2 linked regions of the Homo sapiens genome follow. The protein of the gene in region 1 interacts with the protein of each later gene in a biochemical or structural test. Each region holds a gene or a part of one and is shown on either strand. Other genes may lie near its edges.

The links.
Region 2: the proteins of PPP1R10 (region 1) and WDR82 form a complex in vitro, tested with the Homo sapiens proteins (one study listed by BioGRID).

Annotation. Positions count from the first base shown.
Region 1 is NC_000006.12:30,607,244-30,611,061, forward strand, and holds part of PPP1R10 (serine/threonine-protein phosphatase 1 regulatory subunit 10), read right to left. Parts: intron 2,713-3,818; 5' UTR 2,702-2,712; coding exon 2,595-2,701; intron 1,921-2,594; coding exon 1,834-1,920; intron 1,672-1,833; coding exon 1,536-1,671; intron 649-1,535; coding exon 597-648; intron 1-596.
Region 2 is NC_000003.12:52,268,567-52,272,384, forward strand, and holds part of WDR82 (WD repeat-containing protein 82), read right to left. Parts: intron 2,244-3,818; coding exon 2,146-2,243; intron 1-2,145. UniProt on the Homo sapiens protein: Regulatory component of the SET1/COMPASS complex implicated in the tethering of this complex to transcriptional start sites of active genes.

The sequences.
Region 1 (3,818 bases):
CCAGTTCCTCAAAAACTGACATTTTTTTAAAAAGCTACGTTAGTTGCTTTATGTATAACACACCTAATTGTTACAACAATCTGAAGACTTTTTATTTTCCTTTATAGATGTGAAAACAAGAATAAAATTTGTTTCTAAATATATGAAAAAATACTTTGTAACTCTTTCCTTTTGTACTTGGCAAATAACATCTCTGATCTATGGCACCTCTCTTCTGGCCAACATTTCCACTTATAAACTCATTTCATAATTTATCATTTAGTAATAGGAGTTTCACAGATGAGACACGCTAGGATGATACTATTTCCCACAGCAAATTTTAAGTGTATGTGTTTTATAACAAGCAATTTTAGGAATCAGCTTCCAGTTAAAGTATGGCACCTTATATTCAGCAACAGAGAAATGAACAACTTTGGAATTGAGAACAGGAAAGAGGGTACAGGTTAGAGGAACTTTCTCTTTAAAAGAAGGAAAAAAAGCAAGGTGAGGTAGAAAGAGAAAAGTGAAGGGACAATCCAAGGATGGGAAAAGATATTAAGGTAATTAAGTGGAAGTAATAGAGAAAAGCCCATGAGAGAGCAGAAGTGGCACCCTACCTTCATCCTCACTTGACTTGCTCAGCTGCTTCACCAGTTTAGCTGTGTTGTTCTATGAGAGATGGGAGCAGCAGAAAGGTAAATGCCAGGAGGCAAATAATTCCACTTAGAGCTAAAAACGACAAAAGTTACAGTCCTCCCTGCTTTTTTTTTTTTTTTTATTTTTTGAGACGGAGTCTCACTCTGTTGCCCAGGCTAGAGTGCAGTGGCGCAGTCTTGGCTCACTGCAGCCTCGACCTCCCAGGCTCAAATGATTCTCCCACCTGAGCCTCCTAAATAACTGAGACTACAGGCATGCACCACCACATCTGGGTAAATTTTTTGTATTTTTTGTAGAGACAGAGTTTTATCATTTTTGCCCACGCTGGTCTTGAACTACTGGGCTCAAGCAATCCACCCACCTCAGCATCCCAAAGTGTTGGGATTACAGGTGTGAGCCACCACACCTGGCTGACACATTCCTTTTTTTTTTTTTTTTTTGAGACGAAGTCTCACTCTGTCGCCCAGGCTGGAGTGCAGTGGTGCGATCTCGGCTCACAATAACCTCCACCTCCTGGGTTCAAGCGATTCTCCAGCCTCAGCCTCCTGATTAGCTGGGACTACAGGCGCATGCCACCATGCCTGGCTAATTTTTTGTATTTTTAGTGGAGACGGGGTTTCACCACGTCAGCCAGGATGGTCTCAGTCTCCTGACCTCATGATCCGCCCGCCTCAGCCTCTCAAAGTGCTGGGATCACAGGCGTGAGCCACCGTGCCCAGCCGCCACACACCTATTAAAGGAGATAAATTCAAACCAAGTCTTCTTCTTCTAAATTCCTATTTTTTTTCTGCTGTTCTACCTCACAGGCCCAAGATTACAGCCACATCAGTCAGTTTGAGTTTTTCATCCATTAGACTAAACCAAAAAAGGAAGAATCAGGGTTTAAAGACTAAAGGTACCTGCTTGAGATGGTCTACAGTGAGCGGTAGATGCTGCAGGGTCAGTAGAATTTGCTGGAGGAGGGGAATGTTGTTGGTTGTCTTTGAATACGTCAGCCAATTGTTAAGAAGTTTGTAGCCGCCAACGTCAATAAATCTGCAGGCAGGCAGGAGAGTCTATCAGTAATGCCCTTTCTAGGTTTTGACAGTACCACATCCTACAATCCCAGTCTCCCATCAATGACCGAGGAACCCCATGCCTCACCGCCCCATCTTTTCGCTACACCTTCCCATTCCAACCATCCAGATCCCCACTTACTTGACCAATATTTCTGGTGAACGGGTCTGCAGGAGAATGTTCAAGTAAGTGCATCGACTCACCATCTTTCGTGCTTCCTTCATCAAACTGCAGAAGATGAGTTAGGGTTAGAAATGAAGCAGCCAGTATCTCTTCTCTTAGCAAAAGCGCCTCTCTGTGAACTGCCTAGAGATTCCTAATGACTTGGGACTTTGCTCCAGAGAAGGGGAGTCACATATACCTCTAGGAAGATGGGATGGATCCAGTGTGACATGGAAACTTATGGGAGAACAGAGACACCGCAGTCTCTGACCTGGGGAGGAGAGCATCGCTGCCTCCGTAACACACAGGATGAATTCCATTCTGCCTCCAGGTGATAAGGCTATCCCTCAACAACTGTCCCTAATAGTCTGTTCAAGACTGGCTTAGTTATTTACTCTCCCCTGAAAAACCTGAGAATCCCTGAAGGAAAATAACATTATGGGTAGGTGGAACACGAACCAAAACAATCTAGAATTCTGTTACCAGGCTACCCTGCTCTCATTCCAAAGCATGACTCCCTTGGGACCGTGGACGTCCAAATCTCCAGTTTCCATTATGGTCAGAAACAAGTGATCATCTTTTCCTATCCCTTATCCTAAAATTGTTACATTTTAATCCTATTGCACTGACTATCTTTCCCTTTCCTTTCCAGGATCATTCCAGTGTGCCTCAACTGCAGCCATGTTTTAACACACAATATTCTCTACTCACAGTGAATACAAAAAGGGGTAAAGACTCACCTGAAGATCTTGGAAATCCCATCCACACTTTTGACTTCCCCATCTCGGTTAAGGAAGCTGTCCAGGCCCTTGAGAAGTTCTTTGGGGTCTATGGGACCCGAACCCATGATGGTGGTTTCTATGGTAAGAGGACAAAACAAACAAACCCACAGAATAAATGGGTGGCAAGGACTACCCGAGTAGGCCCTCTAATAAACCACATCTCTATATTTGACAAAGTATAATGACTAATTATTCAACTATGCTATTTTTTAGATATGAAAAATCGACACAGACCACTTGCCACTACTGAGAAAATAGCCCTGGCAAGTTAAGCATGGGGAGCATATGTGACTGAACAGGAAAGCAATTCGATTGGAGGAGTAGGGCAGCACACCTGTCCCTCCCTCCCAGCAGCATCCTTCCTAGGATGGCTGAACTTCACTAGATCGTATTAAAGCTAAGATCAGTTCCCATAACAAGATGTTCAACTCTCCAGGGCATTTACACCTATCGTTAAGTCCTGTCTTCCCTAGTTGCTGATAAATTTGGCTTGAAAAACAGCCTATAGCTTGATAGAAATTGGGCCAATCTTGGGTGTTTGAGCTAAATGTCTTATAAGACTTGAGTCCTTTTTATCTTAGCCCATTAAGAGTCATAATCACTACACATGGCAAGATATGTATCAGCTGAAGTGGTAGATGATGGAGAACAAAACAAAACTTGAAAACAGAATCCCTCCCTAAGGAGATCTGGGAGTAGGTGCCAGAGATTGAGACAAATGGATGCATGGAAATCAAGCAGGTCCTCCTAGACCTTGAATAGACTGTCACTCATTAGCCAAACACTACACAAGTTTTTACTGTCTCTAAGTTAAAAGGAAGCTAGTGGTTTGTGCTTTCAAAAGCAAAGATGCGAATCTGGTCCTCTCCTCAAAAATCACGCTGTACAAGATCCCCTAGGAAAGCCTAAAACTGAAAACCATGGAACCTAAAAAGGGAACAGATAAAGCCAAATGCTAGAAAAATTCCCTTTTAAGCAGCTGTTTTAGACCAGGTTGGGAAGGGAATTAGTTAAAAGCTAAGCTCCTTTTATGGAAGGGACAAGCCAGAACTGAAGTTCCAGAAAGGTAATTTAGGATCAATATGGTTCTGATTGGGATTTTTATCTACACTGCCTCTAAATACTTGCTTCTAAGACCCAAAAAAGAGGCTGGGTGCAGTGGCTCATGCCTGTAATCCCAGC
Region 2 (3,818 bases), on another chromosome or scaffold:
TCACATAGACATGTTTCCTCAGGATCCTAAGGTTTTACATTCTTTTCCAAAATCATTAACTACACTGCTTCCTTAGAAAACCACTTCTGAAATACAGGCATGAAAAGTAGAAATGACATACTTAACTAAAAATCAATACAGGCAGAAGAGTCTCATTAAAAAAAAAAAAAAATGGAAAAAAGGACTTCCGCCCATTCTGCTCTGAGATAGGCACAGCCAAAATAGCAGTATAAGCTATCCTTGTGGAATGACATTAGAAAAATCTTTTTTGTTTTTTTGAGATGGAGCCTCGCTCTGTCACCCAGGTTGGAGTGCAGTGGTGTGATCACCCTAGACCTCCAGGGCTCAAGCAATCCTCCCACCTCAGCCTTACAAGTGGCTGGGACTACAGGCGCGTCCCATCACACCTGGCTAATTTTTGTATTTTTTGTAGAGACGGGGTTTTCCCAAGTTGCCCAGGCTAATCTCGAACTTCTGTGCTCAAGTGATCCACTCTCCTAGGCCTCCCTAAGTGCTGGGATTACAGGCATGAGCCACTATGTAGCCACCGGCCTAAAAAAAACCTTACTGCAAAATGTGAGATGATCATCAATAATCCACTGAAATAAGTTTAAAAACAGAATCCTGGCCGGGCGTGGTGGTTCACACCTGTAATCCCAGCACTTTGGGAGGATGAGGCAGGCAGATCACTTGAGGTCAGGAGTTCGAGACCAGCCTGACTAACATGGTGAAGTCCCAACTCTACTAAAAATACAAAAATTAGCCGGGCGTGTTGGTGGGCACCTGTAATACCAGCTACTTGGGAGGCTGAGGCAAGAGCATCGCTTGAACCCAGGAGGCTGAGATTGCAGTGAGCCGAGATTGCACCATTGCACTCCAGCCTGGGCAACAAGAGCAGGACTCTGTCTCAAAAGAATAAAGAATAGGCCGGGCACGGTGGCTTACAAGGTCAGGAGATCAAGACCCATCCTGGCTAACATGGTGAAACCCTGTCTCTACTAAAAATACAAAAAATTAGCCAGGCATGGTGGCATGCACCTGTAGTCCCAGCTACCTGGGAGGCTGAGGCAGGAGAATTACTTGAACCCGGGAGGCGGAGGTTGCAGCGAGCTGAGATCGCGCCACTGCACTCCAGCCTAGGCAACAGAGTGAGACTCTGTCTCAAAAAATAAAAACAGACAAACAAAAGAAAATAAACAAAATTAAAAAATTAAAGAATTCTAACATGAAAATAAGTGTTACAGTTCAGTTACCAAGACAATCTGTTAACTTAGGATTTATCTCGAGACATGCAGGCAAAAACAGAGATTGTTTATTATAGAAAGAAACTCACAAGTTCAATTTCTAAAAGTAACTCTACTCTTTAGATCAAAAAACGTTCCTGGAATCAGAAGTGACTAAGGTTGGGAAAACACCAAAACTGTTCTAACTTCCCTTAAACTATCATAGTTCAAGCATTTGTGAAACTTTTCTCAAATCTCTATCATTTTAAAAGAAAAAGTCCTGTTGTTTATCACTTGCTGTGTATCAAGTGTTCTTTCCTTTTATTTGTTCTAAAAGTGTTCTTTTTGGAGATGGAGTCTCACTCTGTCGCCCAGGCTGGAGTGCAATGGCGTGATCTTGGCTCACCACAACCTCTGCCTCCCGGGTTCAAGAGATTCTCCTGCCTCAGCCTCCTGTGTAGCTGGGATTATAGGCGTGCACCACTGTGCCCAGCTAACTTCTGTATTTTTAGTAGAGACAAGGTTTCACCATATCGGCCAGGCTGGTCTTGAACTCCTGACCTCAGTGATCCGCCCACCTCAGCCTCCCAAAGGTTGGGATTATAGGCGCGAGCCCCTACGCCCGGCTTTAAAAGCGTTCTTTTAAGTGTCAGGAAGTACAAATCATAAACACAATTAGTTGTTTCCTTTTTCCACTCCCCACTCTGAATTGAAGACTTTTCATACTCAGTCCCAAGTCCTTCAAAAGTGCCAATGGCTTGCTTCCAGCATTCCTTCAGTCAAAACAATGCAATTAACATTACTAACATTATATGAAAATACTTAAACTAAAGTAGTCACAAAGCAGAAGTAGTCACAAAGATTCCATGAACTATTTAACAAAGGAAACCATGACCTTAACTTCCTAAAAAGGCTTGCTTACCGTCTATTTTGTTAGAGCTGTAAACAACTGTGTTTGCTGCATGAGTGTATCTGATGAGGTCCACACCATATTTCTTACTGTACAGGGTTCTCTTTGGTCTGATAAGAAAATAGAGACAGAAAATCATGAACATTCTCCATCATCAAAATCTGGGATCTCCACATAAAGAGAAGCACTTGAATGATGTGGCAAAGGTGAGGATTTTTGGTAAGTTCTAACACTGGAAAGAAACAACTTCTTCCAAAAGGGAAAAAACAACGCTCAAGCAACAGCCATCTGAAGAAGCTTTCCACCTTAGAACACCTAGTGGCAAGGTTAGGTGGGAAGTAAAAGTAAATCTGGGGATTCAATTCAGTCTTTACTACAATGTTCAAAAGCTTTGAGAAAAAATACAATCATGTGCCATGTGATGACATTTTTATCAACAACAGACAGCACATAGGGTAATGGTCTCATAAGATTATAATAGAGCTGCCCTCTACAACCGATGTTTCATTTTTTAAATCCCTTAAACTGTTTTACGGCACCTTTTCTATGTTTAGATACACAAACACTTAACGCTATATTATAATTGCCTACAGTATTCAGTACTGTAAAATGCTGTACAGGTTTGTAGCCTAGGAGCAATGGGCCATACCAAACAGCCTAGGTGTGTGCAGATTATACCGTCAGGTTTGTGTAAGTACACTCTATGATGCTGCTGCAACAAAAACTCACGTGATGATCCCCATCTAAGTGATGCATGGCTGTACATCTACTTGGGAAGAAAGGCACACAAAACAAGTCTTAACTTACAACAAAGAGGGATATGAGAATATGTCAAACCCAAGAGGCCAAACTTTTCTTCTCAAGACATCCATTTAGAAAGAAGCTCTGTGTTTTTTTTTTTCAAGACGGCAGTGATTCCTCAAAACTGAAACCAGATGCAAAACTGCTTGCCTTTGCTAATGTAACCTGCTCTTGCAGAAGACATCCATCCTTCCTATCCTACAGGTCAAAAGCGCTTGCTGAGCCTTTTAGAAGGCAAGCCTAACTTTCTCTAGCAAAACCAGTTAAATAGTTCCTTTGCTTTTACTTTAAAGCAAAATCACACATTTCTGGCCACAAGGTGGTGGCTCACATCAGTCATCACAGCACTTTGGGAGGCCGAGCCAGGCAAATCACCTGTAGTCAGAAGTTCGAGAGCAGCCCAACATGGTGAAACCCCGTCTCTACTAAAAATACAAAAATTAGCCGGGTGTGGTGGCACACACTTGTAATTCCAGCTACTCAAGAGGCTGAGGCAGGAGAATTCCTTGAACCCAGGAGGCAGAGGTTGCAGTAAGCCAAGATCGTGCCACTGCAATACAGCCTCTGCGACAGAGTGAGACTCCACCTCAATAACAGACAAAAAATCACACATTTCCAAGCTAGAGGTTATCAATCTCCATTTGTTGAAGTTCCTTAAATGTCTCCCTTTACAGAACCTTGAAGAGCAAGGCTAAAACTGGTCTCAACAGAACCTTTAACCAAAAACTCTAACACATACTGGTTAAGTTAGAAAAATTTTAGGCTGGGCGTGGTGGCTCACGCCTGTAATCTCAGCACTTTGGGAGGCCGAGGAGGGTGGATTGCCTGAGGTCAGGAGTTTGAGACCAGCCTGGCCAACATGGCGAAACGCTATCTCTACTAAA